7 linked regions of the Homo sapiens genome follow. The protein of the gene in region 3 interacts with the protein of the main gene of each other region in a pairwise test. Each region holds a gene or a part of one and is shown on either strand. Other genes may lie near its edges.

The links.
Region 1: the proteins of DNM1 (region 3) and PCNT interact in a two-hybrid assay, tested with the Homo sapiens proteins (one large-scale study listed by BioGRID and IntAct).
Region 2: the proteins of DNM1 (region 3) and SNX33 interact in binary tests that used the Homo sapiens proteins (3 or more experiments, as listed by UniProt).
Region 4: the proteins of DNM1 (region 3) and ASB13 interact in a two-hybrid assay, tested with the Homo sapiens proteins (one large-scale study listed by BioGRID and IntAct).
Region 5: the proteins of DNM1 (region 3) and CEP126 interact in a two-hybrid assay, tested with the Homo sapiens proteins (one large-scale study listed by BioGRID and IntAct).
Region 6: the proteins of DNM1 (region 3) and PIN4 interact in a two-hybrid assay, tested with the Homo sapiens proteins (one large-scale study listed by BioGRID and IntAct).
Region 7: the proteins of DNM1 (region 3) and NOSTRIN interact in binary tests that used the Homo sapiens proteins (3 or more experiments, as listed by UniProt).

The regions. Positions count from the first base shown.
Region 1 is NC_000021.9:46,330,021-46,334,454, forward strand, and holds part of PCNT (pericentrin), read left to right. Parts: intron 1-4,376; coding exon 4,377-4,434. UniProt on the Homo sapiens protein: Integral component of the filamentous matrix of the centrosome involved in the initial establishment of organized microtubule arrays in both mitosis and meiosis. Plays a role, together with DISC1, in the microtubule network formation.
Region 2 is NC_000015.10:75,653,983-75,658,416, forward strand, and holds part of SNX33 (sorting nexin-33), read left to right. Parts: intron 1-2,979; coding exon 2,980-3,233; 3' UTR 3,234-4,434. UniProt on the Homo sapiens protein: Plays a role in the reorganization of the cytoskeleton, endocytosis and cellular vesicle trafficking via its interactions with membranes, WASL, DNM1 and DNM2. Acts both during interphase and at the end of mitotic cell divisions.
Region 3 is NC_000009.12:128,220,379-128,223,878, reverse strand, and holds part of DNM1 (dynamin-1), read right to left. Parts: intron 1,683-3,500; coding exon 1,540-1,682; intron 1,419-1,539; coding exon 1,283-1,418; intron 1,087-1,282; coding exon 1,019-1,086; intron 1-1,018. UniProt on the Homo sapiens protein: Catalyzes the hydrolysis of GTP and utilizes this energy to mediate vesicle scission and participates in many forms of endocytosis, such as clathrin-mediated endocytosis or synaptic vesicle endocytosis as well as rapid endocytosis (RE).
Region 4 is NC_000010.11:5,649,070-5,653,503, reverse strand, and holds part of ASB13 (ankyrin repeat and SOCS box protein 13), read left to right. Parts: intron 1-453; coding exon 454-641; intron 642-2,140; coding exon 2,141-2,291; intron 2,292-4,399; coding exon 4,400-4,434. UniProt on the Homo sapiens protein: May be a substrate-recognition component of a SCF-like ECS (Elongin-Cullin-SOCS-box protein) E3 ubiquitin-protein ligase complex which mediates the ubiquitination and subsequent proteasomal degradation of target proteins.
Region 5 is NC_000011.10:101,984,003-101,988,436, reverse strand, and holds part of CEP126 (centrosomal protein of 126 kDa), read right to left. Parts: intron 1,606-4,434; coding exon 1,396-1,605; intron 1-1,395. UniProt on the Homo sapiens protein: Participates in cytokinesis. Necessary for microtubules and mitotic spindle organization. Involved in primary cilium formation.
Region 6 is NC_000023.11:72,187,938-72,192,371, forward strand, and holds part of PIN4 (peptidyl-prolyl cis-trans isomerase NIMA-interacting 4), read left to right. Parts: intron 1-4,434.
Region 7 is NC_000002.12:168,805,050-168,809,483, forward strand, and holds part of NOSTRIN (nostrin), read left to right. Parts: intron 1-4,434. UniProt on the Homo sapiens protein: Multivalent adapter protein which may decrease NOS3 activity by inducing its translocation away from the plasma membrane.

The sequences.
Region 1 (4,434 bases), on a different chromosome or scaffold from region 3:
AGGTACCAGTCAGCTTTTTCCACAGAATTCCTGACATTTTAATAAGCTAAACATGCAGTCATCAGGTATTAACCCCTATTGGATCTTGGACATCAGCTTTTTCCCCCTTTTTTTTGAGATAGGGTCTTGTTTTCTTGACCAGGCTGGAGTGCAGTGGCGCAATCATGGCTCATTCCAGCCTTGACCTCCTGGCCTCAAGTGACCCTCCTGCCTCAGCCTCCCTAGTACCTGGGACTACAGGCATGTGCCACCATACCTGGCTAACTTAAAAAAAAATTTGTAGAGACAGTGTTACACTGTGTTGTCAGGGCTGGTCTCAAACTCCTGTGCTCAAGTAATTCTCCCACCTCGGCCTCCCAAAGTGCTGGAATTATAGGTGTGAGCCATCCCACCTGGCTAAAATTTATTTTCTTTATACATGTATAGGTAAACTAAGTAGTATGTGTAGAATAGAGCCATTGTCTTTCTGCTGTACACTAAGTTAGGAATCAAATTTCTTAAGCCATTTTGTCAATTATGTATATAAAAACCATTGGTGCTTTAGAAGCAGATATTTCATTAACTTTTTTCTGATTATATCATTGTACATCATCAGTTCAGTCTAAAAAGGAGTTTTTTTCATATGTATTATAAAATATTTCATGATATTTGAGTTTAGTATGCCTTTAATCCAGTTGTAGATGTTAAAATAGGAGTAATTTTGTGTTCAAAATAATGATCTTCTGAAAAGTGAAATTCTAGGAAAGAGTCCACTGTTTAAAGCTAGCAGCTGGTGGCCGTGTGGCCGAATAATGTCCCAGGCCAGGGCACTCCCCTCTCAGATGGTTGGTCATGCTGCGTCGGAGATCAGGAATCCTCAAGGAACCTTTATGTTATAGTTGTACCAGTGCTTTAAACATAATGAAAGGTGCATTTGTTTTATTTTACCCATCTATAAATTGTGAGAGGTTTGGCTATGGAGAGTCTAGTGAGCTTATTGAACAGCATAAGAAGATAAGTGTGTGTGTTTGTGTGTGTGTGAGAGTGTGTGTATGTGTGTGTGAGGGGGAGGGAGAAGTTATTGTGCTTTCCAACATATAATAAATTGCTTACTTTGATCACTAACTGTTAGGTAAATACTGATGATTTCTAGCATAAGTCTTTTTTCTTTTTTTTGGAGACAGGTCCTCCCTCTGGCGCCCAGGCTGGAGTGCAGTGGCCCAATCAGCTTACTTCAGCCTTGACCTCCCTGACTCAGGTGATCCTCCCACCTCGGCCTCCCAAAGTGCTGGGATTACAGGCATAAGCCGCTGTGCCCAGCTGATATAAGACATATTTTTAACCAACTTTAAGATCTTAGTTTTTTTTCAGGATGGTTATAAGCGAAGGTAGAATTGCAGAAAGACTTTGTGGTAAATATTCAGGATTCGGCTCTGTTGCCTTACAATTTGTTAAGTGCATGATGGAAAAATAGTTGAAACAATGCAACAGCTGTCTCAGTTCTGAAAGTTAACTCAGAAATGGCAGAAAGCAAGGTCAGGCATGGTGGCTCCGAGCACTTTGGGAGGCCAACGTGGGAGGATGGTTGAAACTCTGTCTCTATGAAAAATATAAAAATTAGCTGGGCATGACAGTGCACACGTGTAGTCCCAGTTACTCAGGAGGCTGAGTTGGGAGGATCACCTGCGCCCAGGAGTTTGAGGCTACAGTGAGCTATGGTGGCACCACTGCACGCCAGCCTGGGCGGCAGAGCAAGGCCTTGTCTCAAAAAAAAAAAAATCATAAAAATAAAGCAATGGTAGAAAGCAGAATTTGACCTTTCAGTTACAGATGAGGAACAAAGTGAGGAGAGGCCATTTTTTGGTAAAAGAACCATCTGGCGGGACGCATTGGCTCATGCCTGTAATCCCAGCACTTTGGGAGGCCAAGGCAGGAAGATCACCTGAGGTCAGGAGTTCGAGACCAGCCTGGCCAACGTGGTGAAACCCCATCTCTACTAAAAATACAAAAATTAGCCGGGTCTCATGGCAGGCGCCTGTAATCCCAGGTACTCGGGAGGCTGAGGCAGGAGAATCACTTGAACCCGGGAGGCAGAGGTTGCACTGAGCCGAGATCGCGCCATTGCACTCCAGCCTGGAGGACAAGAGCGAGACTTTATCTCCAAAAAAAAGAGAACCATCCAAAAATTGCTCAGAGGTCAAGAATTTCAGAAGAAAATACAAAAACTTTGGCTGAAGAAGATTTAACTAGTGCTATAGAAGGCTTAAGAAGTGTGGTTCTAGCACTTTTCCAACTCATATTTGTATCAAATACCAGGAAAAATAGTTATCACCATTTATCATCTAGATTTCTGGGCCGTTTTACTGTTTTGTCATTTTAAGTTGTTTTACACGTAATTTACAGAAGTAAGAATAAAGCAATAATTTAAAACAACTTTATAAGAAATTTGATCCAACCTCTTTGTATCAAGTAAGTTTTGACACACAAACATTAGAAGTGTCCTCTTAAGGAAGTGGATGGTCCAGGTTCCTTTGAAGTGTGATCATTCATGTGAGCGGGCAGCTGATTGAGACTACTGTGTCCCCTTTTCGTCCCTCACTTCCTCTTGATTCTGAGAAGATTGATCTAGGGTATTGTCAAATGAAGACTTGTCTGAGATTTTATTTTCACGTCAGTTTTGCCATCATCATTGGCCATGGGTGCTCTCTCTCTGCATTCATCTTGTGACTCATCTAATGATCCCGAAAAGTCGACACTGTCATGTTTCTTTGCTATTTTGGGAAGAAATTGAAATGTTCTTAGTGAATCATCTTGTTAAAGCAAGCTAATCTGGGCACTGTGGCTCATGCCTGTATTGCCAGCATTTTGGGATGCTGAGGTGGGAGGATTGCTTGAGCCCAGGATTTTGAGGCCAGCTTTGGAACATAATGAACAGAGACCCTGTCTCTACAAAAAAATAAAAAATAAGCTGGGCACAGTGGCGCATGCCAGTAGTTCCAGCTACTCAGGTGGCTGAGGCAGGAGGATCACTTGAGCCCAGGAGGTTAAGGTTGCAGTGAGCTGGGATTGCACCACTGCACGCCAGCCTGGGTGACAGAGCAAGACCTTGTCTCAAAAAATTAATTAAATTTCTTTTTTAAAGTAGAATTCATGGCCGGGCGCAGTGACTCACACCTGTAATCCCAGCACTTTGGGAGGCCGAGTTGGGCAGATCACAAGGTCAAGAGATTGAGACCATCCTGGTCAACATGGTGAAACCCCGATTCTACTAAAAATACAAAAATTAGCTGGGCATGGTGGCACGCGCCTGTAGTCCCAGCTACTCAGGAGGCTGAGGCAGGAGAATGGCGTGAACCCGGGAGGCAGAGCTTACAGTGAGCTGAGATTGTGCCACTGCACTCCAGCCTGGGTGACAGAGTGAGACTTCGTCTCAAAAAAGACAAAAAAGAAAAAAAAAATTAGCCGGGCGTGGTGGCATGCGCCTGTAGTCCCAGCTACTCGGGAGGCTGAGGCAGGAGAATTGTTTGAACCCGGAGGCGGAGGTTGCAGTGAGCCGAGGTCATGCCACCAGCCTGGGCGACGGAGTGAAACTTTGTCTCAAAAAAAAAAAAAAATTACAGGCTGGGCACGGTTACTCACACCTGTAATCCCAGCACTTGGGGAGGCCGAGGCGGGTGGATCACCTGAGGTCAGGAGTTCAAGACCAGTCTGGCCAACATGGTGAAACCCCCGGGAGGTTGAGACAGGAGAATCACTTGAACCCAGGAGGTGGAGGTTTCAGTGAGCCGAGTTCGTGCAACTGCATTGCAGCCTGGCAACAGAGCAAGACTCCGTCTCAAAAAAAAAAAAAAAAGTAGAATTCATTAAGAAGAGGGGCAGGAACATCATTAGGGAAATTACTTGCATTATAAAAATGTTTAGAGCTGGCCAGGTGTGGTGGCTCATGCCTGTAATCCCAGCACTTTGGGAGGCCAAGGCGGGCGGATCACGAGGTCAGGAGATCAAGACCATCTTGGCTAACATGGTGAAACCCTGTCTCTACTAAAAATACAAAAATTAGCTGGGCGTGGTGGCGGGCACCCATAGTCCCAGCTACTAGGGAGGCTGAGGCAGGGGAATGGCGTGAACCCAGGAGGCGGAGATTGCAGTGAGCTGAGATTGTGCCACTGCACTCCAGCCTGGGCGACAGAGCAAGACTCCGTCTCAAAAAAAAAAAAAAAAATGTTTAGAGCTTGGGAATTGTTAATGCGGAAGGTGCACGTTCTGAACAGGTGGAAGTGAGCTCTACTTGTTAAATGAAGTCAGCACAGGCCTGCAGATAGAGGAGCTGGGAAGGGCCTGAGGCTGCAGCCCTAGACCTTGCTTTAAATGCTTCTTTCTGGTCCTCCCCTTCTTAGCCGGAGGACTGTGATGGAGAGAAGAGAGAGGACTTGGAACAGCTGCAGCAGAAGCAAG
Region 2 (4,434 bases), on a different chromosome or scaffold from region 3:
CTTGGAAGGCTGAGGCAGAAGAATTGCTTGAACCCAGCAGGCGGAGGTTGCAGTGAGCCGAGATCAAGCCACTGCACTCCAGCTTGGGCAGCAGAACAAGACTCCATCTCAAATTAAAAAAAAAAAAAAAAAAGAAAAGAAAAGCAGTTTTCAAGCCATAACATGTAGCATCTGGAGCTTCTATTGTATCTCAGGTGCGCTCCTTTGAACTGTGTACATATTAGTTCAGTTAAGCCTCAACTATACTATAGGGCAGGTACTATTATTATCCCATTTTACAGATGTGGAAACTCCTTAAAGCACTATACCGTGTGAGAGGTTGTCAACAGCATCACATCTAGTGCAACCTGTCCCACTGGGCAGTGGGGAGACCTGGAGCCCAGGCAAGAGCAGTGGCTTGCTGGAGAGGATACAGCTAGGACTAGGACTCAGACCTCCTGCTCCCTCCTGCCCCCAACCTGGGGTGGATGTTAACTGTCTCCAAGAGGCAGGGGCAAGATGGATTGAGGTGGGAGCTTAGGGAATATCCCTGGGACTTGCAGCTGGTGGGCTCCAACCCTCCTTTCTGCATTTTTGGGACCCAGCCTGTAAGAGGAGTGCTGAGGCAGGAGGTCCCCCTGGGTCCTCAGCTCTCAGGTTAAGTCTTAAGTAGAATGTCGGGGGGATGCTGGACAGGCCTGAGCCCTGACTCCCAGCCTGTGGGGTGGGGTGCATTAGCATTAGCTGGTCCTGGCCCCAGAGCTGAGTCACAGGGTGGAGGGGTAACGGAGAACAGGGTGGGGCCTCTGTTTCCCCCCGACCTCTGCAGCCTTTGCTCCCCATCCCTGGCCTCCTGCCTGTCTGTGGATACCTAACCATTGCAATGGGTTCATTCTTACTCTTTGGGCTCCTCATCAGCAAAAGAGGCCTTTCCTTCCTCTAAGGCCATGGACAGGAAAAGTCTATAGATGCACTTCCACTGTGCCAACTTTCTCGGCAGGTGGAATCCAGGCTAGTTCAGTATCTCCTCTTTAGCTAGGTTCCTTCTGCGGAAGTTTAACTCCAGTTTCTTCACCCTGCTGTTTTCTACCTTTCTTCTTACGGTTCTTCCTACTCCTTGGGACCTTCTTGAATCCCTGTGTCCAACGTCTGGGGGCCCCACACATATGCCTGAAGGACCTGGCATGGGCTCCCTGCAGCAGAAGTGGTGTCCGACCCCCAGCTGTGGAGGACCAGGCAGGAAAGAGGCTGGGAGTCCTGGGCAAGTTCCTGCCCCTCAGGGCCTTGGCCTCCTCTGTACAGTAGTAGGATGGAGGTGGAATCGAGGGTTGGACACCTGATCTTTTGGGCCTTTCTAGCTCTGAAGTCTCTTACTGGGTCCTATCCTGGGCCTTGGGGTGATCCCCCTTCTGCTGCCCAGGGCTGGGCTGTTGAGATGGTGCAGGAGGTGGTCCAGGGAAGGTGGCAGAAGGACTGAGTGGGCTGGGAGCTGGGGAATGCAGATTTCTTTTGGGCGCTGTGTGAGCAGCCCTGGAGACTCTCTGAACTTGAGTCTGTTTGCCTGAAATGCTACTATTAGCCGATTAGCCATGCACTTATCAACTAACATGGATGTTGCCCCTTCTAAAGGCATCCAGAGTTATTCCCAGCATGTAGAGCCCTGGGCCTGATATACAGTAAGTGCTCAATGAATGCATTTAGAATGCACTGGACAATTTGAGCCAGGGAGTGAAGAGAATATTATCTAGACAGCCCTCAAGAGCCCTCCTTAAAGGAGAAGTGGGAAAGCATGGGTATTGAGCATGCTATCTGTGTGTAGTGGGTGCGTTTGCAGTGCTCAGGGGTGTGCTGTCCTCTATGCCAACCCTTCCCTGCTCCTAATCTTCTTTGTATGGTGGATTCTCTGCAGCCCTCGGCGACTGAGTGCCAGGCACAGGCAAACTTCCTTCTCTTCCCAGCAACTGTCCCCACTGGCTTAAAGGCAGAATTCGTCAAGTCCCTTTTAATTCAGAACTGAAATTCATTCACCAGCTGCTTGTTCATTCATTCAGATTCTTCTAAATTGGGTCCTCTGCCCAGGTTCATCTCCACCCCCCATCTGTCACCTGGTTATTACACAACCTCCTCGAGTTCCCTGGGGGCTGGGATGAGGAGGGAACAGGGCGTGCATGTCTGGGAGATACACCAGGTGGCCTTTGAAGAGTTGTTTTAGAATCAGCAGTGTGATGGGGGTGGGGGTGGGGAGCCAGGGCACAGGTGACATGGGAGAGACATTCTGTCAGGGGAACTGGGAGAGGCTCCAGTGTAGAAGTGGCACCTGATCGGGGCCATGAATTATGAATAGGAATCCAGGGGGCAGAGGTAGGAAGGTAGGAAAGAGCCAGGTGAGTTTGACGAACATGGGGGTCAGTGTGGAATGCGTGCAGGGGCCAACTCCCAGAGGTGAGGGCCCCCCAGGCCAGGCAGATTGGTGTGGACCTTGATCTGTAGGTAGTGGAGAGCTAGGAAAGGTGCCCAGCTTGGGATACCTCTTTAGATGCTGCAGAGAACCTGTCAGAGGCTGGGGCGGAGGGCAGGGAGACGTGGCGGGGCTGTTGTAGCAGTCCAGTGAGGGACAGGGTTGAATCAGTTCAGCAGGCCTATATCAGGATCTGCTGTGGGCCAGGCCTTGTTCTGGGTACCAGAGACACAGAGAGGTTGAGGACAGGCTCTATCCTCATTGAATTCATAGTCCATCAAGCAGGGCTGTGACTGGTCACATGTGGGCTACTGGTGGCACTGCACATTTGGAGAGAAGATGATGTGCTTGGTTTAGGAGGTGCTGAGGGTGATGGCTTGGGTAACATCCTGGCAGAGACACCCAGGTGGCTGGAATGTGGGTCTGGGGCTCAGGAATGACGTCCGAGTTGAGCTGATGAGGGTGCTGTCTGCCCTCAAGGGTACAGGGAGCACATGGAGATCAGAGCCCTCACACGCTGTCCTCTGCTCTGCCTATGCCAGGCGCCTTCGCCAAGGTGAAGGAGAGCCAACGCATGAGTGACGAGGGCCGCATGGTGCAGGACGAGGCAGACGGCATTCGCAGGCGCTGCCGCGTGGTGGGTTTCGCCCTGCAGGCCGAGATGAACCACTTCCACCAGCGCCGTGAGCTCGACTTCAAGCACATGATGCAGAACTACTTGCGCCAGCAGATCCTCTTCTACCAGCGGGTGGGCCAGCAGCTGGAGAAGACCCTGCGCATGTATGACAACCTCTGACCGCGTGTGCCTGGGCCCCCTCCTTCCCCTGGGCCTGGTCACTGCAGTGTACCCCACTTTCCCGACCTCCCTATACCAGCAGTGACTGGGGGAGGGGTCAGCGGTGGGGGAGATAAGCGGCCTGTCCTGCCTCCTGGGAGAAGGAGCTTTCAAGGAGTCATGGGTGCCCCTGGGAAATTCCCCACTCCTTAGAAGTGGGGCACAGCAGGGGTGAGAATAGAGTCAGGAGCCCTCGAGGCCAAGGCCTGGGCTGCCGGTCAGTCAGTGAAGGTCAGGCCAGGGTCTCAGCCTCCCCTAGAGCCTATTTTGCTTGCTCACCTGGCCACTGCTGCCTTATCCATTCAGCAGACACCGAGGCCTGCTGCACCCTTGGGTCGGATGCTGGGCACCCAGGGCTGTGACATGCCTGCTCTTCAGGAGTCCTCAGTGAAGGTCGGGGTCAGACACAGACAGAGTCAATGCAGTATGACTGATGTTTAAGTGAGGGATTTCTGGAAGCTCATAGAAGGGACCACAGCATTCCACTGGTCAGGGAAGACTCCATAGAGTAGGCAACATTTGGGCAGTGTTTTGAAGAATGACAAGGGCCTGCCAGACAGTACATGGGGGAGAAGGACTTTCAGGGGAGAGGAACAGCATGGGCAAAGTTATGGAGGCATGCAAACATCTCCCTCTTCTCTCCCTTACTTTCCAAGCAAGTTAGGTACGCTTTCCATGGGGATTCTGGCCTGTGTGGTAGGAAGGGATCTCCCTTGCTCCCATGTTGCTGGCTGTCCGTACATCACCCTGTCCCCTGCAGGAGGGGGCTACAGGCCATCTCCCTCCTGTAGGCCTCTGACTCCCCTCCACTTTTGGGCCCTCAGCTTATCTCGGGCAGGGGACCATTGCAGCATCCTCCCCTCCTCGGACTCAAGGTGCTGAGGTATAAGCCCTGGGCCCCAGATCCCTGGTGACACCTTCCTGGAGAAGACTCTCAAAAGTGACTGTATATTTGAGTTCACCAGCAATAACTCCCCACACTCGAAGCAGGTCCAAACCCAGGATCTCAGGGTCCTTGGGCTCTGTGGCACTGTCTTCCCAAGATCCTTCCTGTTGCACAATGGGAAACCTAAGAGGAAAAAGACAGGGGCCTGCTTGCCCAGCCATGCGAGGGATTCCATGCCCACCTGCCCTCTGTCTGCCTCGCTGGAATGTGGGCCCC
Region 3 (3,500 bases):
GACAGGGTTTCACCGTGTTAGCCAGGATGGTCTCGATCTCCTGACCTCATGATCCGCCTGCCTCGGCCTTCCAAAGTGCTGGGATTACAGGCGTGAGCCACCGCGCCCGGCCCTAATGAGGCTCTTTGGGGCAAGACAAGGTGGTTGAGTATCTGATATGTAAGTCCTGCTTCCTCGTAAGGGTCTGTGCATATAGGAAGTTCTATGGCCAGAAATGGCTTGAAAATTGCCAAACGTGGTTCTCCATAAGAGCCTTTCCAGGAATAGAGTGTTTTGTTTTAAGACTAGGAAAGAGATCTTTTTTCTGTGAATTGGCCAGTGCAGTTATCAGGAAGTAAATTCCATGCCAAATCTTGGAAATGAACCTGCATGAGAGCAAGGGGACACTGGGTCTTGTTCACTGCTTGGCATAGGGTAGGTGCTTTAAATTTTCCGGCCCAGTGGATTTGTTGGATGAACACAGCATAGATCTGGGTCCCTGAAGGGGATCTAAGCTTTTAAGGAACAGATTCCACCTCCCAATCCTGTTTCCTACTCCACGGGTTGCCTAGAAGGAGGGCGGTGGGGTGGAATGGGACTGACTCTGGGCTACTGTGAATACAGGAGGGTGTGGAGGATTGCAAAGTCCCCGGCCGTCATAAAAGGACACAGCCTCATACTTAGATGCTCCACCCCAGGCCCTCGTAGTGGTTTGGACATCTTTGTCCGGTTACCTGGGTGGCACTGGGGGAGCTATCTCACCCTGGGGATGGGCCCAGCCCCAGAGGGTGTTTCCCCGGCCACCTGCGCCCTGGGCTGTGCCCAGTTGGCCCAGCAAGTTGCAGTAGGCGGGGTGGCCCGGGTCCACCTCCCCAAGCTGGAGCCTGTCATGCAGGGAGCCAGAAAGTTGGGGTCGAGAGGACTGGGGAACAGAGCTTTCAGTCCTTCCTGAGGGAGGCCCACTTCATCACTCCCTGTGCCTCTGTCCCAGACCCCCTACTTCTGGGGTTCAGCCACCCTCCCAGGCCCCAATACGTGCCTAATGCCATGGATATTCTTGATAGCATAGCTGATCTCCCTTCGGAGTTCCTTCTCATCAAACTCCATCTGTGTAGAAAAGCAGAGAAAAGCCTGGTCAGGGCCTGTCCTACTACCTGGGAGGTCAAGACAGGGCCCACCCCACACCTAGGGCTGGGCATCAGGGCCTGTGGGGTGGGGGCCAGCAAAAACACACGCAGAGAGAGTCCTGAGTGAGGGTGGGGGGAGTCCTGAGCCATCCTGTCCCCAGGGCTGCCTGACCTACCTTGACCAGCTCGAAAGGGAAGCGCTCGTGGAAGATTCGGTTAATGCGGGCTCCCCCTGACAGTTCGTAGGTGTCGATCTGATCTCCTGAGCCCTCAATGCGCTTCTCAAAGTCTACGGCGAACTGCTGGACCATCCTGGTGGGAGAGTGGTGTGGCCTGAGGGGGCAGGAGCAGCCCAGCAAAGGGAACCCTGGGAGAGCCCCACGCTGAGAGGCTGGGGGCGGGGATTCAGTGATAGGAGCTGGGGGAGCCTCACTGCAGCAGGGCCTTGGTCTTGCGAGCTGGGTCATCAGGGCGGAAGTTCTTGTATTCCTCCACCTCCTTCTCAATGGACAGTAGCTGGCTCTGCAGCTTGTTCCGCAGCCCCGGCAGTGTGTCCCGGATGTGGTTCGTCAGTTGCTGGGGGTAAGGGTGAGGAAAGGGTTGAGGACAGATGGTCACAGGGCCAGGAAGGGACTTGGATGCCAGGGGACTGTGTGAACGTGGTGAGGTGGAGAGCTATGGAGGGCAGCCCTGCCACTGCTGCCCGGGCCACTAGCAAGAAAACTGGTTCATAGAAGGAGCTTGCAGAGATGTATTAGTTGAATTAATGAGTGCATAATTTTCAATAAAGCCAGAAATCTGGATTTGTATTTGGAATTTCCTGATTTTTGGCCAATTTAATCTTTTTATTTTTATTTATTATTATTATTTTTTTGAGACGGAGTTTCACTCGTCACCCAGGCTGGAGTGCAATGGCGTGATCTCAGCTCACTGCAACCTGCGATCTCTGCCTCCCAGTTTCAAGCAATTCTCCTGCCTCAGCCTCCCAAGTAACTGGGACTACAGGCGTGCACCACCATGCCCAGCTAATTTTTTGTATTTTTAGTACAGGTTTTCGCCTTGTTGGCCAGGCTGGTGTCGAACTTTTGGCCTCAAGTGATCCACCCGCCTCAGCCTCCCAAAGTGGTGGGATTACAGGCATGAACCACCATACCATCCCAATTTAATATTTTTAGACGTGCGTCTGAGGCAGGGGTGGCCAGAGGGCTGCCCCTTGGACCCTCTGGGTTTAAAGCCTCCTTTAAGGTCATTCTCAAGTTCTAGCACTCATGCTCACTAGGTGCCCCCACACAGTATCTCCCTGAACCTTTACAACAATCCTATGAAACAGGTCTGATCACCATTGTCTCCATTTTACAGATGCAGAAATAGAGGCTCAGAGGCCAGGCACGATTATGGCTCATGCCTGTTATCCCAGCACTTTGGGAGGCCAAGGCGGGCAGATCACCTGATGTCAGGAGTACGAGACCAGCCTGGCTAACATGGTGAAACCCCGTCTCTACTAAAAATACAAAAATTAGCCAGGCGTGGTGGTGTGTGCCTGTAATCCCAGCTACCTGGGAGGCTGAGGTAGGAGAATCCCTTGAATCCAGGAGGCAGAGGTTGCAGTGAGCTGAGATCGCACCATTGCACTCCAGCCTGGGTGACAAGAGCAAAACTCCATCTAAGAGAGAAAGAAAGAAAGAGAGAAAGAGAGAAAGAGAGAAAGAAAGAGAGAAAGAGAGAAAGAAAGAGAGAAAGAAAGAAAGAGAAAGAAAGGAAGGAAGGAAGGAAGGAAGGGAAAGAAAGAAAGAAAGAGAAAGAAAGAAAGAAGAAAGGAAAGAAAGAAAGAAAAGAAAAGAAAGAAAGAAAGAAAGAAAGAAAGAAAGAAAGAAAGAAAGAAAGAAAACAAATAAAGAAAAAAGAAATAGAGGCTCAGAGAGCCAGAGAGAGTGTCTCAGAGGGGGAGTGACAAAACTGGGATTGGAAACCAGGTCTTGCCTACACAGACAGACAGTCAGACAGACACACACACACACACACACACACACGCGCGCGCGCGCGCACTTCAGTTCTGGATGCCCCATTCCAGATGGAGAAAAGTCCTGGGGAAGCCCCTGGGATTCCCTGTCAAGGTCTTCAGCCGAGTATACTTGAATCCTGGCCCCCAAACCCAAGCTCTTCCCCATGACACCCTCCACATAGGTCTTGGCCTTCTCTGTGTTGGGGACTTCCAGGGCTTCCCTGGCAGGTCCCAGACAGGGAAAGGTCAGTGAAGCTTTGCTGCTACCTAGCTGTGGGGCTGTGGGCAAGTTGCTTTGCTTTTCTGAGGCTCAGTTTGTCTATCTGCACTACGGAGAGGCTAACCTCTGCTGTTCACTCTCAGAACACACTTAATTTATCCTGTTTTCATGC
Region 4 (4,434 bases), on a different chromosome or scaffold from region 3:
TCTGAGCGTGTGTGCGTGAGCATTGTGGGAAGTGTTTCCCAGAGAAGTTGTTTTACCTGGGCCCACCTGGAGGATGTAAACGTTTCACCAGGAAATTGCAGAGTGGACAATTGGCAGGGGGGCAAAGGTGGGCATGTCAGCAGAGAAGGATGTGCAACTGCAGGGGAGTGGTGAGCACCTGTGCCTGCAGAATATGCAGGGGCAGGGGTGGGAGGTGGACTGTGGAGGTGAGCGGGGTCCACAGGACGGAGCCCCTTGTAGGCCTTGCCCAGGAGCTTGGACTCCAGCTGTCAGGCAGTGGGGGTGGCTCAGGGATCTTTGTAGAAGTGCTGGGACAATTGCATGATCACGGATGGTGCCTTGGTGGCATCAGGGACCCTGGAGTCTTACGTGTGCTCATTTGTCCTGGATGGAAGTGGCAGGGTCTTAGCCTGAGGTCCCCTTCCTTTCCAGGTTTCTGGGTGGAGCGGACCCCTGTGCACGAGGCAGCCCAGCGGGGTGAGAGCCTGCAGCTGCAACAGCTGATCGAGAGCGGCGCCTGCGTGAACCAGGTCACCGTGGACTCCATCACGCCCCTGCACGCAGCCAGTCTGCAGGGCCAGGCGCGGTGTGTGCAGCTGCTGCTGGCGGCTGGGGCCCAGGTGAGTGGCCCTTCAGGGCAGACCCCCAGACTGGCTGCAGCTGCCAGAATGGAGGAGGTTGACTCAGGAGAACTTGGGAAAGAGGGGAGGATGGGGGCTGCACTGTGTCCACTGCACACAGGTACCAGGAAGCCCATGGCTGAGAAGTGCTCGTGGACCTGGCTGTTAGGAGGTCACGGTGGTGGAAGAAAGGGCAGCCTGAGCAAATTGATGATGGGAGTGCCAGCCCTGTGGTGGGCAGGAGCCAGCAGGCTGGCCGCAGCCTAGACACAGGCTCTCTCAGGGGCAGCCAGGCCTGGGTGCAGAGCTGCTGCTTGGGCCCAAAGAGCAGGTTTCCGGCTTTAGGATAACTCAGTGGGATGCTGGCCAGCCAGCTCTCTGAAAAAAGGAACAAAAACAAAACTGTGTTGCTGCTTTCCCTGGTGTAAATGTTCCCACCCTGGCTAGTATTAAGCCACCGGGGGTTTCTGGTCAGCAGAATTCCTGGCACATTGGCAGCCAGCTCTCCCGAGCTGGCAAACACTGGCCCTGCACACCCCTGGCCAATGTATAAGTGACACAGGGACCTGGTCTCAGAGTTCAAGGGGTGAGGAAGAAGGGAAGACAGTGTACTGTTTACTCTTCCCAAAAGGTTGGAATGGAACCGATTTCAGTGTGTACCCAAATAGAATTTGAATTTGGACAAATGCTAAATAAAATTTGCCAATTTGGGGAGTTGCCTTTTTCCTGGCCTCTGACTTTCTCACTAGGGGAGGCGTGGTAAGCTGTCTCAGGCATTCCTTCCATTGAGGTTAGAGTTTTGTGTGTGTGTGTGTGTGTGTGTGTGTGTGTGTGTGGTTTTTTTTTTTTTTTTTTTTTTTTGAGATAAGGTCTTTCTCTGTCGCCTAGGCTGGAATGCAGTGGCGTGATCATAGCTCACTGCAACCTCATCCTCCTTGACTCAAGTGATCCTTCCACCTCAGCCTCCTGGGTAGCTGGGACTATAGGTGCATGCCACCAAACCCAGCTAATTTTTGTATTTTTTGTAGAGACAGGGTTTCGCCATGTTGCCCAGGCTGGTCTTGAACTCCTGAGCTCAAGTGACCCTCCCTCCTCGCCTTCCGAAGTGCTGGGGTTACAGGTGTGAGCCACTGTGCCCAGCTGAGGTTAGGGTTTTTAAAACTCATTTTTAAAGCCTGCCTTTCCCAGCTTGCAGCCTAGGGTTCCCCTGTCCTGCTCTGTGCTTACTAGGTGTTTGGGGCGGGGGTGGCGAGGGGGCTGCTGAGCTTATCCTGCCCTGAGAGAAAAGAATCCTGAACGAGATGACTTCTCTACTCAGGAGGCCGTCGGTGCTCCGCAGCCACGTGCTATCTCTTTCAGTGTCGTTGCCTAGCACATAATAGCAAAGCAAACCGGTGCTTCTAAGAAGCATCTTAGCAAAGATGAACCTGCAGCAGGATGGGAAAGTGGGTTGCGTGGCATTTCTCTGCCCTTTGACACTTGTTTCTTCCTCCCGTGAGGTGGATGCTCGCAACATCGACGGCAGCACCCCGCTCTGCGATGCCTGCGCCTCGGGCAGCATCGAGTGTGTGAAGCTCTTGCTGTCCTACGGGGCCAAGGTCAACCCTCCCCTGTACACAGCGTCCCCCCTGCACGAGGCCTGCATGAGCGGTGAGTTGGCAGACGGCTGGGCTGGCCCAGCTGGGCTCTGGAAGTTTCCTCCTTTCTGGGATTAAAGGGACTTAGGGAAGGAAGCAGAGTAGACAGAATTGGGAGCCCTTGGCTGGTGAAGGAGAGTTCTGAGTCTGTTTCTGGCTCCTGGTGGCTCAGCTGCAGAGATTCTAAGCTTTCCCTTCTTGAGGTCTTCGTCCAGGGCTGGGGTGGGTGACTCTAGGGTAGGATTCTGTGTCCAAGCCAGGGTTCCCTGGGCCTCTCCACGTTAGCAGGGCCTGGGGGACTCTGCAGAGGCTCACTTGGGCTTTGCTACAGTTTGCTCTGCAGGCCCCTGATTGAGATGGGAGACGACAGAGAAACGTGTCCCAACAGCCTGGGCCAGGAGGCTGTGCGTGGTGCTCTCAAAACAGTGCTGGTCCTGCAGGCTCAGGGAGCAGGTGGGACCTCATCTGCCCCCCAAGAATAGGCAGACTGCAGATGCTGGGAAGATAAAAGGGCACCCCGAGCATGGGGAACATTCCTTGTCCTATCTTACTGCATCAGAAGCTCCCAGTGGAGCAGAGAGGACTGGAATTTAGGGTGAGACCAGCTGGTGGGAAGATGTTTAAATGACAGACTAAGGAGTTTAGATTCTACTCTTTCGAGCAGAGGTTGCAAACTGTGGCTTATATCTTGACCGGCCAGCATGGCCTTTGTCTTTGGATGCACATCTGGGGTGCAGGGTATGGGGTATGTGCCCTTCCACGGTGCTGGCAGGGCCATGGCTGCATGTGGCTCACCCCTGATTCCTGCTCGTAGGTCTTTCCATGTCTGCAGGCCATGGGACAGCTCCAGGGAGCTCTTGAAGGTTTCTGAGCAGATGTCGAGGGTCAGGAAAACAGAATTTGGGGAAGGTTCATTTAGTGGTCCTCCATGTGCAGATAGACGGAGGTGCAGTGGTGGCTGGGGTCTCCTGGAAGCAGAGGGATGAGTTGGGGACCATCGCTGAGATCAAGGTGCCCAGTGCTCAGAGTAGGCTGGTGGAGTGGGATGGTTTCATTTAGTAGGGTTGGGGAAGGAATCCATAGGATTTCGTATGAAGGGGAGGCTCAAGAGGTCAGAAATGAGTCAGGTTTGAGTCAGGAGCAAGGACCCCAGGAAAGGGAGAGGGCTCTAGAGTGGGAGACACCGGCCGGTGGCCAGCACATGGCTCTGGGGCTGGGGCTGGGTGTGAGGCTGGTGGGGAAAATTAGGGAGCTGCCAACAGTGAAGAGGTAATTGAGTGAACGGAAAGGTTGGAGCCTAGACGGAATGTGCAGGGGCGGGAGGATGGGGGGCCTGGAACCCCGCTCCAAATCCGCATTACAGACCCAGGAAGAGGAGCCACTTAAGAGGCAGGAGAGGCCGGGCGCTGTGGCTCATGCCCTTGGTAATCCCAGCACTTTGGGAGGCTGAGGTGGGCGGATCACCTGAGGTCAGGAGTTTGAGACCAGCCTGGCACATGGTGAAACCCTGTCTCTACTAAAAATACAAAAAAATTAGTCGGGCACGGTGGTGCATGCCTGTAATTCCAGCTATTTGGGAGGCTGAGGTGGGAGAATCGCTTTAACCCGGGAGATGGCGGTTGTAGTGAGCTGAGATCGCACCACTGCATTCCATCCTGGGCAACAGAATGAGACTTTGTCTAAAAAAAAAAAAGAGGCAGGAGAGGCGGCTGCCGTGGTGCACAGGAGGATGACCTGCATAAGAAAGTCTGGGGGGTTTCCTGGGAGGCTGGGCTCAGTGCTGACAGCCGCAGGTAGACACAGGGCAGGGGGGCAGCGGGGGAGTTTTCCCTGACCCATTCTAGGTGGTGCCCCATGTCTTCTGTTCTCACAGCAAGAAGCCGGCCAGGCCCGTTTCTCCCACTGCCTTGAGCCCTCCGTCCTCAGCGGGGCGCAGAGCCGTGTCCTGGCTTCCTGAGGGCCATGCGGGTCATGAACTCCTCCCTAGGTTGGGACGCAGGCCTGCCTGGCTTCCCTGCCCTGCACCAAGGATGGAGGCTGCTGCCCCTGCCGCGTCTGTGTGCTTGTTGTCTCCAGTGTCCGTATTCAAGGACATTCCCCCCCTTTTCCATTTATCTTAAGGGAGTTCCGAATGTGTGAGGCTTCTTATTGACGTC
Region 5 (4,434 bases), on a different chromosome or scaffold from region 3:
ACCTTTTTATTTACTCTTTTGTGTCTTTTAAGCTCTATATCATATTTTCCATCTCTTTGTCTCTCTAAGATATACTGTGGATAAATTTCTTTGATTCATAATCTAGTTTACTAATTCTCTGTTCAGACGTCTGTAATCTGGTGGTTAAACCACCTACTAAATTTTACATTTCAATTATTATATTTTCAATTTCCAGGCATTCTATTTGGGCCATTTTTCAAATCTGTTTGCTCTTTCTTTATAGTTTCTTATTCCCTGCATGTTTAAGTTTAAAAATGACTGCATTTCTGCATTTTAAAGCTTATTTCTGACAACTTTAGAGCATACAAGCATAGTTATTTATAGTTTGTGCCTGGTAATTTCATTATCTGAATCCTTTCTGGGTCTGTTTATTCTGTTTTGTGGATTCTTTTGATTTTTTTTCTTGGTGCCTTTTTTCATTACGGATTAAGTTATTTACTTTTTTTTTAATTGTAGGCTGCTCATTTTCCTTGGATTTCACTTGTGATAATTCTTTGAGGACTGGAATATAGGTGCAGAAGATACATAAATGTACTTTTCCCAAGTGTTTTGGAATACTACCAGTTTGGGATCATTCTAAATTAAGTTCTTTGCTTGAGATCTTAAGAACTATTCAGTTAATGTGAGTATGGGCTGTAAATTAGTGTGATACTTGTATTAGACTGTGATTCTACATTCTCAGGGATCATTTTTCCTCTATCACCTGCTCAATACTGAAGTTTAAAAAATGCAAGCCTTTTTTTTTTTTTTAGAAAAAAATTCCCTCTCCCTGCGCTGCCTCCTCTGTGTATGCATGTGTAGTGCACAGCTCTTCGGGTGGCCCAGCTTTATGGTGGAAAGATCTTCTGTGAGACTACTCATCCTGAGTAGGCCTGTTCCCTTTTTCCTATGAGGCCATGGAAAGCAAAGTTCAATTTCACCCCATGAGTTAAATATCCTCAGGACAAGAGCTAGCTGCTGCACTCTCCTTATCTTTTTGAGTTCTTATCTACATTTAGTTATTGGTCTTAAGAATGTCTTACATTCTTACTAGCTCATCACTATATTGCAGGTTTAAAAAATACTTAATCAAGGATTTATGGTTGTTTTGATGGATGGTCAGTATAGATATGTAGCCTGTCCATTGCTGAAACAGAAGTCTATTCATATATTCTGAAAAGACAGATAAGTCTGCCAAAGAAGTTGACATCATCATAAATGATATGGCATACTTGAAATAGTATTCAAATATAGTCTGAATGGTTATGCACTCAGGTAGTTGGTAATATGGATATATTTTGTATTTTTCTTTTCAATTTTTAAATTAAAGTTTAAATTAAAATTGTCTAAGTATAAATGCAGTATTTCTTATAAAAGGTGTTCTTCCATACTTACAATGTAGTCTTTCACTGAGATCATTAAGGGACTCTAGGATCTTCTGTTCTTCAGCTGACAGTGTGCAGATGTTGAATTGTTGAGTTTTATTTAAAGGTAGATTTGATTTCTGTATCTGTTTGCTATTCAAGACAGTCAGAATCTCATCCTCCGGCACTGATGCTTTCACTAAGTTTTCAGCCATCAAAAACTCAGAAGTACTATCTGAAACTACAGAAACTTACATCAGTTATTCTTTGAACCCCTTTTGTCTTTGAGATCAGCCCTTATATATACTTACATATACTTATACATGCTTAACTGTCTGTATGTATTCATATTACAAGCAGAAACCTAGCAAATATCTGCTACTTTGATTTCATTTATCAGGATCCTCTATCTAGCATTTTCCTATCCTTCGTTTTTTAAAAAAGGATATTCAAAATGACGGCAGTGAGTTAATAAAAATTCCCAGAGTATTACTTGAACTAAAGAAAAAAACTATATAATGCAGATAGTTTTTGTCATGTTTGTTATTCATTGGTAGTACAAAAAAGATGAAGAAGACTGTCTTTATAATAGTAGTTATAATGAATTATAACAAAGTAAGACCAAAAAACCCTTAAGATTAGAAACTTTGATGATCAGCTAAACAGAACTGACAGCCTAGAAACAGACCCAATTAGATATAAGAACATGTGATCAAAGAAGCATCAAATATTTGACAGAAGGGAAAGATGATTTTACATATTAGTTTTTGCTTATAAAAGAATCAATTTGGGCTGGGTGCAGTGGCTCATGCCTCTAATCCCAGCACCTTGGAAGGCTGAGGCAGGTGAATCACTTGAGGTCAGGAGTTCAAGACCAGCATGGCCAACATGGTGAAACCTCGTCTGTACTAAAAATACAAAAATTAGCCAGGTGTTATTGTGGGTGCTTATAATCCCAGCTACTTGGGAGGCTCAGGCAGGAGAATCACTTGAACCCAGGAGGTGGAGGTTGCAGTGAGCTGAGATTGTGCTACTGTGCTCCAGCCTGGAGCTCTGTCTCAAAAAAAAAAAAAAAAAAAAGAAATCAATTCAGAGTTTTACTTCCCACTGTTTGTTTAAACAAATTCGTAAGAAATTAAAGACAAACTTAAGGAATCAACCCATTAATTAAAGCAGAAGAAAATGAAACAAATGTTTCTAAATGTCTGTATTGGGAAGGTTCTTTGACAAAGCTTAAAAGTAATGGAGACATCAGTAAGAAAAGACTAAATAAAACATGTTTATTTAAAGCCAGTCTTCCCTAATAGACTTTACACTTCTGAAGAGCAACACTTTTGTATATTTTTTTCATTATTGTAAATGTTAAGTATTCCTTGTCCAAAATGCTTGGGACTAGATATGTTTCAGGTTTTGGACTTTTTTAGAATTTTGGATATTTGCATACACATGAGATATGTTGGTGATGAGACCTAGGTTTAAACATGAAACTCAGCTGGATGCGGTGGCTCATGCCTGTAATCCCAGCATTTTGGGAGGCCGAAGTGGGTGGATCACCTGAGGTCAGGAGTTCAAGACCAGCCTGGCCAACATGGTGAAGCCTCATCTCAACTAAAAATACAAAAATTACCCAGGTATGGTGGCATACGCCTGTCATCCCAGCTACTTGGGAGGCTGATGCAGGAGAATTGCTTGAACTTGAGAGGCGGAGGTTGCAATGAACCAAGATTGCACCATTGCACTTCAGCCTAGGTGACAGAGTGAGACTCTGCTTAAAAAAAAAAAAAAAGAAACTCATTTATGTTTCATATATACCTTATACACATACCTGAAGGTAATTTTATATAATATTTTAAATAATTTTGTCCATGAAATGAAGTTGGTGTATATTGAACCATCAGAAAGCAAAGATATCACTGTATCAGCAACCTATGTGGATTATCTGTGGTTGTTTGGTATCACTGTTATTCCTGACTCCAAATTTATATCTACTGAAAAGCAATAATGTTCTTACACCTATTCACACGTAAGTACTTAACAGTAAAAAATAAGATGTATCCTTCACACTGTCAGAAAATAATGTGTTCAGGGCAACTAAGCACCACAGTAACATCACCAGAATACCTGTGTCGGCTGTTCAACAACAGCAACAAGGAACAATGGCAGGCTTCCAATCTTAGGTATTATGTTACATTTTGACCAGATGGTTACTGTACACTGTATTTTATTTTTTTAGGTGAGAAGAAACATCAGAAGCAGCTGAGGCACAAGGAAGTGGGTCCTCTAGGGATGAGGAAATATTCTGCTAGATGACCTTAAAAAATGTTTCTTCCAGAGACTTTTGCCTCATTTACAATGTCTTTTTTTGTCCTATAAGCCTCTCTTTGATTTTATAAACTGACATAATTTCTTGTTGTTATGAGTGTACACTGCTCTAGTCGTTCAATAAACCCATCACACATTTTCATCATATTGTCAATTGGCACCTTTTTCTTTTTCAGTGTTAACAATGCCATTATCATCACTATTATCACAATCATCTTAATTCAGAGCTCTTTTGGCTATTTCATCATTGGTCAATGAAAACACCTGGAGTCTTATTATCGATGTTAATAACCTCTTTGATATCCACTTCTTCCAGCTTACTGATAGACTCTGAAGGTATATTTTTTTGCTTACGTAATGAGGTCAGACATAATTTTTTCTCACTTGACATACAGAATCCTTCAGTCACTACCTTGTTCATCATCACTGAACATAGTTGCAGGCCAGAGGTTGTGCCAGGAATGCACAATTGTGTCTTTAGTCCCTGTGTTCCAAGTGTTTGCAACAGCATGTATGGCATCTTTCATGCTAAACTCGTTTTGAAAACCTTCTACATCCACATCTCTGTTCACTGTTGCTGGCATGCTGTTCAAGAAAGTGTTTATATGTATTTACTCTTCATCTACCTAACGATAGTCTGGTCACACAGCTGAATTAATGAAGTAATATTTGGGGGAAAGCACGTGGCATAAAGATTATTTTTGATGAGAATTTCAGCTGGAGGATGAAAAGAACAGTTGTCAAAGAA
Region 6 (4,434 bases), on a different chromosome or scaffold from region 3:
TGTAGCCTAAAAAAGAGAGATCATGTAAATGGTGTGGACTGTTCTGCCCACTCTTCTATTCAATGAACCTATGCCCCACAGAGAGAGAGAGAGATGAGAGACATGCACCTGCTTTTCTATAGTTGCCCTGAATTCTTGTGTGAGCATCCAATCATGTGAAGTGGGGTTCTGGTATCCAAAGATAAGTTTTCATAAAACATAGCCCCTAAATACAACCCAGTTACTTCATGTTACAAACGGAGTACAGCGTTCCTGGCTATGTCTGGGCTTAAATGAGAGCTGACATGCTGGTCTCCCATATGACATCTTCATAAAGGGATATTCTAGGGTAATTTTGGCTATATGCAGTTTTCACCTAATATGTTTTCACAAGCATCTAACCTAAGAGACTGTTGCACTGCATATGGCTTTAGCTACTTTTTTTTATTTTTTTTTTTGAGACGGAGTTTCACTCTTGTTGTCCAGGCTGGAGTGCAATGGCACGATCTCGGCTCACTGCGACCTCCGCCTCCCAGGTTCAAGCGATTGTCCTGCCTCAGCCTCCCAAGTATCTGGGATCACAGGTGCCCGCCACCGCGCCCAGCTAGTTTTTTGTATTTTTAGTAGAGATGAGGTTTCACCATGTTGGCCAGGCTGGTCTTGAACTCCTGACCTCAGGTGATCCATCTGCCTCGGCCTCCCAAAGTGCTGGGATTACAGGCATGAGCCACCGTGCCTGGCGGCTTTAGCTAATTTTTTAAAAACTTTGTTTTGTTGTTTTTATCTTTGTAGAGATGGAGTCTCGCTATGTTGCCCAGGCTGGTCTTGAACTCCTGGCCTCAAGCGATCCTCCCGCCTCAGCCTCCAACAGTGTTAAGATTATAGGGGCATGAGCCACCACACCTGGTGCATGTGGCTTTAAAGAGGCACCTTACCCTCTCTGGAAAAAAAATAAGTTCAATGTGGCCACTCATGAGATATATGGAAAGGAGTGGCACGTTATTCACTAGGAAAGTAGATTAGGGTTAAATTTGTTTTTATAAAGCCTTTTATTTTGAGATAATTATAGATTCACATGCAGTTTTAAGAAATAATACATCTAGCTGGGCATGGTCGTGTGTGCCTGTAGTCCCAGCTACTTGGGAGGCTGAGGTAGGAGGATTGTTTGAGCCCAGGAGTTTGAGGCGGCAGTGAGTCAGGATCACGCCACTGCACTCCAACCTGGGCAACAGAATGAGACCTTGTCTCTAAAAAAGAAAAAAAGAAAAAGGAAAAGAAATAATACGTATTCCTTTGTTTCTCCCAATGGTAACACCTAACAAAACTATAGTACAATAGCACAAACAGGATATTGACATTGATGTAGTCAAGATACAGACAATCCTACCACTACAAGGATCCCTCCTCTTGGCCTTTTATAACTATACCCGCTTCCCTCCTGCCCCACCTCTGCCCTCTTAACCCATGGCAGCAACTTATCTGTTCTCCATTTGTGTAACTTTATAATGTCAAGAATGTTATATGAATGGAATAATACAGTATGTAACCTTTTGGGATTGGTTTTATTCACCCAGTATAATTCGCTGGAGATTTCATTCAGGTGGTTTTGTTTATCAATAGTTTATTCCTCTGTATTGCTAAATAGTACCAGTTGAGTATCCCTAATCCAAAAATACAAAATACAAAATGCTGTAAGATCTGAAACTTTTTGAGCGCTGACATGACACTCAAAGTAAATGCTCATTATAGCATTTCAGATTTTGAATTTTCAGATTAGGGATGCTCAACTGGTAAGTTTAATGCAAATATTCCCAAATCCGAAACACTCTGGTCCCAAGCATTTTGGATAAATGATATTCAACCTGTATCCCATGATGTGGAAGTGCTGTAGTATGTCGAACCATTCACCTGTTGAAGGACAGCTGGGTTGTTTCAAGTGTTTTTTGAAGGCACCAGTCGGTGAGGGACCCTGGGACCCTCTGGCCTTTTAGGGTTCAGCTCCTTTCACATTCTGTCATTCTGCTTCAGACCCCACCCCTGTGCCCACACCCTGCCCTTTTGTCGCTATAAGCTCTGCAGATTCTGAGACCCATCCACTGACCACAGCTTCCCTCCTTCCCCTTCCCTTCCTGCCTCCGCCAATCCTGTTCCTCTGTTCTTCTCCTCACAGACCCCCAAGCCCTCAAGCCCACCCTAATCTCCCCACTTTCTCCTAGGCTTCATGTTTGTTTTCCTATCCCCTGCACACTCAAAATTAGGCCTAAGGGCTTGATCATTGGATTGAGGAGGTCCAGTTTTTCTTTTGGCCACCTCCCTGCATCCACCTCCCTGCTACTCAGGATCAATCCAATGGTCTACTTTCTATGCACTTAAAATTAGATCTATAGTTAGAAGAGAAGAATTCGAGTGGTTCTAGTATAAAGAAAAGACAAATATTTAAGGTGATGGATATTCCAAGTATACTGATTTGATCTTTACCAATTATATGAATGTATTAGATTATTGCATTACCTTGAAACTGTACATCTACTATGCATCAATAAAAAAGAAAGGAAGGAAAAGAAAAGAAAAGAAAAGATTTCCTTGAAAACGTCTAGCTGGGGGCAACTTAAATATTAATACTTGATTTTTAATAAGTATGTAAATAAAGTATTTACTAATAATTCCAATATGAGTATTATATTTGCTTATAGATGAACTTATTTCAGTAGCTTGGCTCAAATTTGAAACAGTTACTTAAGAAAGAAAAATTCAGCCGGGCGCCGGTGGCTCATGCCTGTACTCCTGGCACTTTGGGAGGCCAAGGCTTGCGGATCACCTGAGGTCAAGAGTCCAAGATCAGCCTGGCCAACATGGTAAAACCCCGTCTCTGCTAAAAATACAAAAATTAGTCGGGTGTGGTGGCGGGTGCCTATAATCCCAGCTACTCGGGAGGCTGAGGCAGGAGAATCACTTGAACCTGGGAGACAGAGGTAGCAGTGAGCCGTGATCACACCACTGCACTCCAGCCTGGGCAACAGAGCGAGACTCCATCTCAAAAAAAAAAAAAAAAGCTCCCCAGAACTGCTGGGCCCTACTGGAAAGTCACACAGCCTTGGGGATTGGGACTACTAATACTTGGTCTCTGACTTTACCTAGGCCCTCAGTGCTGCTCAGCAATCCTTTACCGCCCACCTGTAGCCATCCACCACCCCACTCCCATCAGTCAACAGAGAACTTCATTCCATGGTTCTCAACCCTAGACGTACATCAGATTCGCCTAAAAAAATACGAGTGCCTAGGGTCTCATCCCAGACCAACTGCATCAGAATCTCTTGGAGGGGGGCCTGGACTTTGATAACTTTTTTAGAAGGGCTGGGCTCTGTGGCTCATGCTTGTAATCCTAGCACTTTGGGAGCCCGAGGTGGGTGTATCACTTGAGGTCAGGAATTCGAGACCAGCCTGGCCAACATGGTGACACCTTGTCTCTACTGAAAATACAAAAATTAGTTGGGCATGGTGGCATGCGCCTGGAATCTCAGCTACTCGGGAGGCTGAGGCAGGAGAATCACTTGGACCCGAGAGGCGGAGGTTGCAGTGAGCTGAGATTGCGCCACTGCACTCCAGCCTGGGCGACAGAGTGAGACTCCATCTCAAAAAACAAAAACGAAAAACTTTTCTAGAATTTCTGGAGGTGATTCTAATATGCTGCCAGGGTTAAGAAACACTCATCTAGTCTCACAGCGTTAGTGTGAGGATTTAATGAGATAAGTACTCATCAACTTTTAAATGTTTTTATTATTTTAACAAGAAAGTGGAAACCAGACCCATTGTCAGGAACTCATTGGCTTTCAGCCCCCTAGCAACAAAGTTACCTCCTCACCTTTTTTCCTTTAAGGCTAATTTTTCAAACCGTGTTCTGAATACCAAACCTTGCTCCTTCATTTATCTCTACCCTCTTTTTTGTTCTGTCTTCAACCGGTTTTTTTTTTCCTAGGTCTTTCCCTTCATTCCGAAAATATGCCCAGGGACCTTTAAAATTCGTGGGTTTTTTTGTTTTTGTTTTTGTTTTTGAGATGGAGTCTCACTCTTGTTGCCCAGGCTGGAGTGCAGTGGCGCGATCTTGGCTCACTGCAACCTCCATCTCCCAGTTTCAAGCGATTCTCCTGCTTCAGCCTCCCGAGTAGCTGGGATTACAGGCATCCACCACCACTCCCGGCTAATTGTTTGTAGTTTTAGTAGAGATGGGATTTCTCCATGTTGGCCAGGCTGGTCTCCAATTCCTCACCTCAGGTGATCCGCCCACCTCTGCCTCCCAAAGTGCTGGGATTACAGGCCTGAGCCACCTCGCCCAGTGTAAATTTCGTATTTACATGTCTTCCACTTTTTGCCTCTAGCCAGAGCCCTTTCTCCTTTTCAAACAAAGTTAGTTTGTTTGAATTACCCTCCCACTTGACATTGTTTCCTCAGTCAGCC
Region 7 (4,434 bases), on a different chromosome or scaffold from region 3:
ATATAATTCATTTCCTTTTTAACCCTACGCTACTTAAAAATGTTATTCTGAATCAAATAGGTTTCATGAGACTACAAAAAGGGCTCATGGTACGAAAAAATTTAAAAATCTCTTTTAGATCAAGCTCTAATGGGCAAAATAGACTGACAGCTGGGCCTTTCAACCTCAAAGAGCAAGGTCAGTGTTTGAGTTCAAATTGTTGCCAGGGTGGCATAAGATTGCCTAAATGCTGTGTAGGATTAATCTTGAGAGTGTCAGAACTTATTTGAAAAAGATATCTGTAAGATATCTTTAAAGTTCTGTTTTTGACAAGGAAAAGAATTGGCTCTGGGCCTTGATGTTTCATTGCCTATGAAGGTTTAGGTTTAGCTCTTAAACCTAAAAATATGTCTAGGGAACTCATCTTCAAATCCATGTGCAAGAAAGGCGAAGTAAGATCCAATTATCTCTAAGGGAAAGAATCCAATCATAAGAAAGTATTAATAGCACCTTCCTATCAAACAATCACATAGAAATCAAGGACAAGTAACAAGCTGTAGCCAAATTTTTGCTTTTTACACACTCATACAGTATCCAGGAAGGGGTCTGTCAAAGCAAGTCTTCTGGGCGCCACACAGTCAGCCCCTCCCCGCATGTCATCGGCCATTGAAATGGCACCAGGCTGCTCCTCAGGTTGGTAACCTGGCTCAGATGCCAACCTGAGCTTCCCATCTTGGTGGCTTAGCCTGGATATCAGACAATGACTGTCACTAACTCAGATGGTGCCGGTGCCATGGTCCGTAGCTCCTAGGAGAATCTGACTCGCTGCAAAAATACAGAAGGAGGCTGCATATGGCATGGGTGTCACGTGGCCCACAGCCTCCCCAGTGTGCATCAGTGAGATGTGTAACATGCCATTCCACATTTCTTGGACCTCTGTTTCCTTGTGTGTAAAGTAAAAGGAGGAAAGGATGGAGTAGACTATGCTCTTTAATGTTCCATATCCCGTAATCTATGACAGTCTGCCACAGGGATTCCAAATACTACGCAGATGGTGAACAAGTACATGGAATCCCTTCAGAGAGGGGCAGTGCTTTGAAACATCACCCCCAGTGAATCAGAACTCACATGATATCAGTAGCACAGTGCCTGGCGTAGTAAAGGCAGTCAGCAAAGTTCATTGTGTTAAATTTAAGGGGAATATCATGGTTTCTTTAACACTGTGAGGATCATCACTAATCAAAAAAAATCCTTCTGTACTAGCATCAATAAAAATAAATTTTTCTATAACTTTTTCTAGAACTAAATTTAACCCTCTTAATCATTCAAGCAGAAAGAGCAGGTGGGCCAAGCTTGATATAGGCACTTTATAATCTTTACAAGTCGCCTGTCTAAACATTTCATGTGCTGACTGGCTGGATTACTAAATGTTTTTTGTAATGGCTATATTTATCAACAGAATTTGCTTACAAGTGCTGGGAAGAAACATTTTCCTAATGGCCGAATGGGAAATGTCTGTCAAATAGACCAGTTGTCTATTTGAGAAGGGGTTATTATTTTTTTAGGGGCTCAGGAAGATCCCAGGTATTCCACTACCAGACTGAAATCCCTTTATCAGGGGAGAAAAACCTCATCGTGTTTTTTTCCCCAATAATTAATGGTCCCCAGGAGAAGCAGCATATTAATATGAATTCATATGGAGATGTAGAATCAATAGTAGATTATTCCCTGGAATGAATATTTGATAGGGGGTTAGGATATTTAAAAGCTCAATGGGTAGGAAAAGAACACCAAAATTGCCTTCCACCTGACTGCACTTCTTCTCAGCAAGCTCTTCTTCTTGTGCTGGTTAATGACATCAAGAAGCCAGCTGTATTGCACATAACACTTAAAGGCTACTATAACTTGGAGTAAACTTACTGTGATTATACAGATTAGCCATTTATAAATGTATTTGTTTCTGATGGATTCTCTAATTGATTTTCATACCTAACATTTCTAATCACAACTCTGTCTCTAACTAATTAGGTTATCCTTATCTCTTTGGGTCTTAACTGTAAATAAGGGAATTAGACTTTGGTGGCTTGCAAACTGTGCTCCATGGAACCCTTTCAGAGTCCTCTCTGGTGGGTGGGAGTGTGGTGAGGTAGGAGTGAGACAACCAAAACTAAAGTCAAGTGATTTCACCCCCACAAAGCAGGTAAGTTCCAAGATTTTCTGAACACACACACACACATACATACACACACACACAGAGAGAGAGAGAACTATATGGTCTCTGGAAGTCTGCTGTAGCATTTAAGTGGGTCTGCTTTTCACAGTTTTTGTCTCCAAGTCTCAGTAGATGGTACATAATGAAAAGTACAGAATGATTGATTCTAAATAAGGGTTTATGCTGGGATAATGAAAATATTCTTAGCAAATCTTTTATTTATTGATGTCACCTTTATCTCAATCTGGATCAAGGTTTGTTGGGGGAATTTTTGGCGTATAGTATATAGGATCAAGGGTAAAGATTCTCTCCATTGCTCTTGTAAGCACATCTCTTATCTGATCGCTAAATTAACAACAAGTATGAAGATCTTCTCAACTTGCATGTGCCTGGGCATACTGGCGTTTGAGGTTTGAGGGTGGGTTACAGGTGTACCTTAGACACAAATCCTCTGCACCGTTGAATTGGCAGAGTATGGCTGGGAGCGAGGTACGAGGCAAAGCCATGGGCCAGTTCCCTCTTCCTGGAACAATTTTGTCCATTTACCACACTCTACCAGTACAAATATTTGCTATGTGCACCATTTTGGGACAAAAGTTAGAAAGTACTGGTCTATGAAATGACAGAAAATCATCTTCCAAAATCTAGACCTGGTAGCCCATGGGTCAATGGAAGCCATAGACTGTGCTTTGGTCCAGCAGCCCCTTACTTTAAGAGGTTGAATGTGAATGCCTTTGCCACAGGCTTCACCACTGCCACTGAAGGCAATTGAGTTTTCAATCACTGGCTTATAAACTTTCAGCATGGCCTAGCCTCCTAAAACTAGTTCCCTTGAGACAGTATTTAAAAATGTGTCTTAGGGAGTTTTGATGGCTTGATAAGTTTAGGAAATGCAGCAGCCCCTGTAACCCAAGCACATAGAAAAATTCTCAACTGGTTCTACTCATTTCTACATTGGTTATGAGCAGAGTTTTCTCTACATGCCCCCATTCCACGCTTGATGTCCAGGGTCCCTTGTTCTCTCCCATAGGTAACTTCTATGTGCAGACTATCCTGTGGTGATGGTGGACTGGTAGGGCCTTTCCCTTAGGACATTTCATCTCAGAGTCCCTTCCTTCCACTCCTGCTTCCCCTAATGGGAGGTTCTTTTTCTCCTTCCCACTCTAAATCCCTCGAATCCATCTCTCTGCTTTCTTTTCTCCCATCCTCAGCCCCAGCTTTATAGTGTGTTTGAGAGCAGAAGAATTTACTCCGTAAACATGCATCCAGGTCTTTCTCTCTTGCACAAGGCCCCATGGCTTTTTGTTGAGTCTTTGTTTCTGCTTTGCTGTGGGCTGGAGAGAAGTCAATAAGACAATACATAAAAATCCATAGCTTAATACTGTGAGATATTTCTAAATAAATCAAATAAGAAAGCCACAGGACCTATAAAGAAAATCATAAAATTTTATTGAACATAAAATAAAATTTGAACAAATGCAAAAACTTACTATGTCCTTGGATAGAAAGTCTAAACACCATTAAAAAGTCAATTTTCCCAAATTGATACATGTATGTAATACAATTCCAATTAGGATCCCAACGGGGATTTAAAAAGAAATGTAATTAGACAAATGTTCATATGTTAGAATAAATGCCTCAGAATAGCCAAATAAATTATGAAAAGGAAAAAAATAGTTGTTTAAAGAGAAAGCAGAAGCAAAGTGTTAAAATCTCTATAACTTAGGTAGTGAGTACATAATGTGTATTATTATTTTCTGTATCATTATGTTATGAAACATAAAAGTGTTTCATAATTCAAAGCAAAAAGACCCTGTATGAGTTAGAACTATGTTCAGCTGCATATTAGAAAAACCCCAAATACATATGTCTTTAGAAAACAACATTGTATTTTTCTTACACATAAAATAAATCCAAAAGTAGAGAGTTGAGGGCTCGTGTGGTGTTCTTCACAGCCATCAGGGACCCAGGCTCTTTTTCTCTTTCCACTCTGTGATCTTAATGCATTATGTCCAATCTCAATACCACTTTATGGCTTTGGCCTTCATTTTCAAGTCCAGAAGGAAGAAAAGAGGGCAAACAAGCCTTTACTGAAACCTCATACAAAACCTTCCCTCACATCTCCTTGGATAGCTTTCAGTCACATGGTTATAGATCAAAGGGGGAGGGAGGCTGAGAAATGACCTTATTTCAGGAGTATGTACCCCACTAAACATTTAGGCATTTTCTTCTCATGACACTGA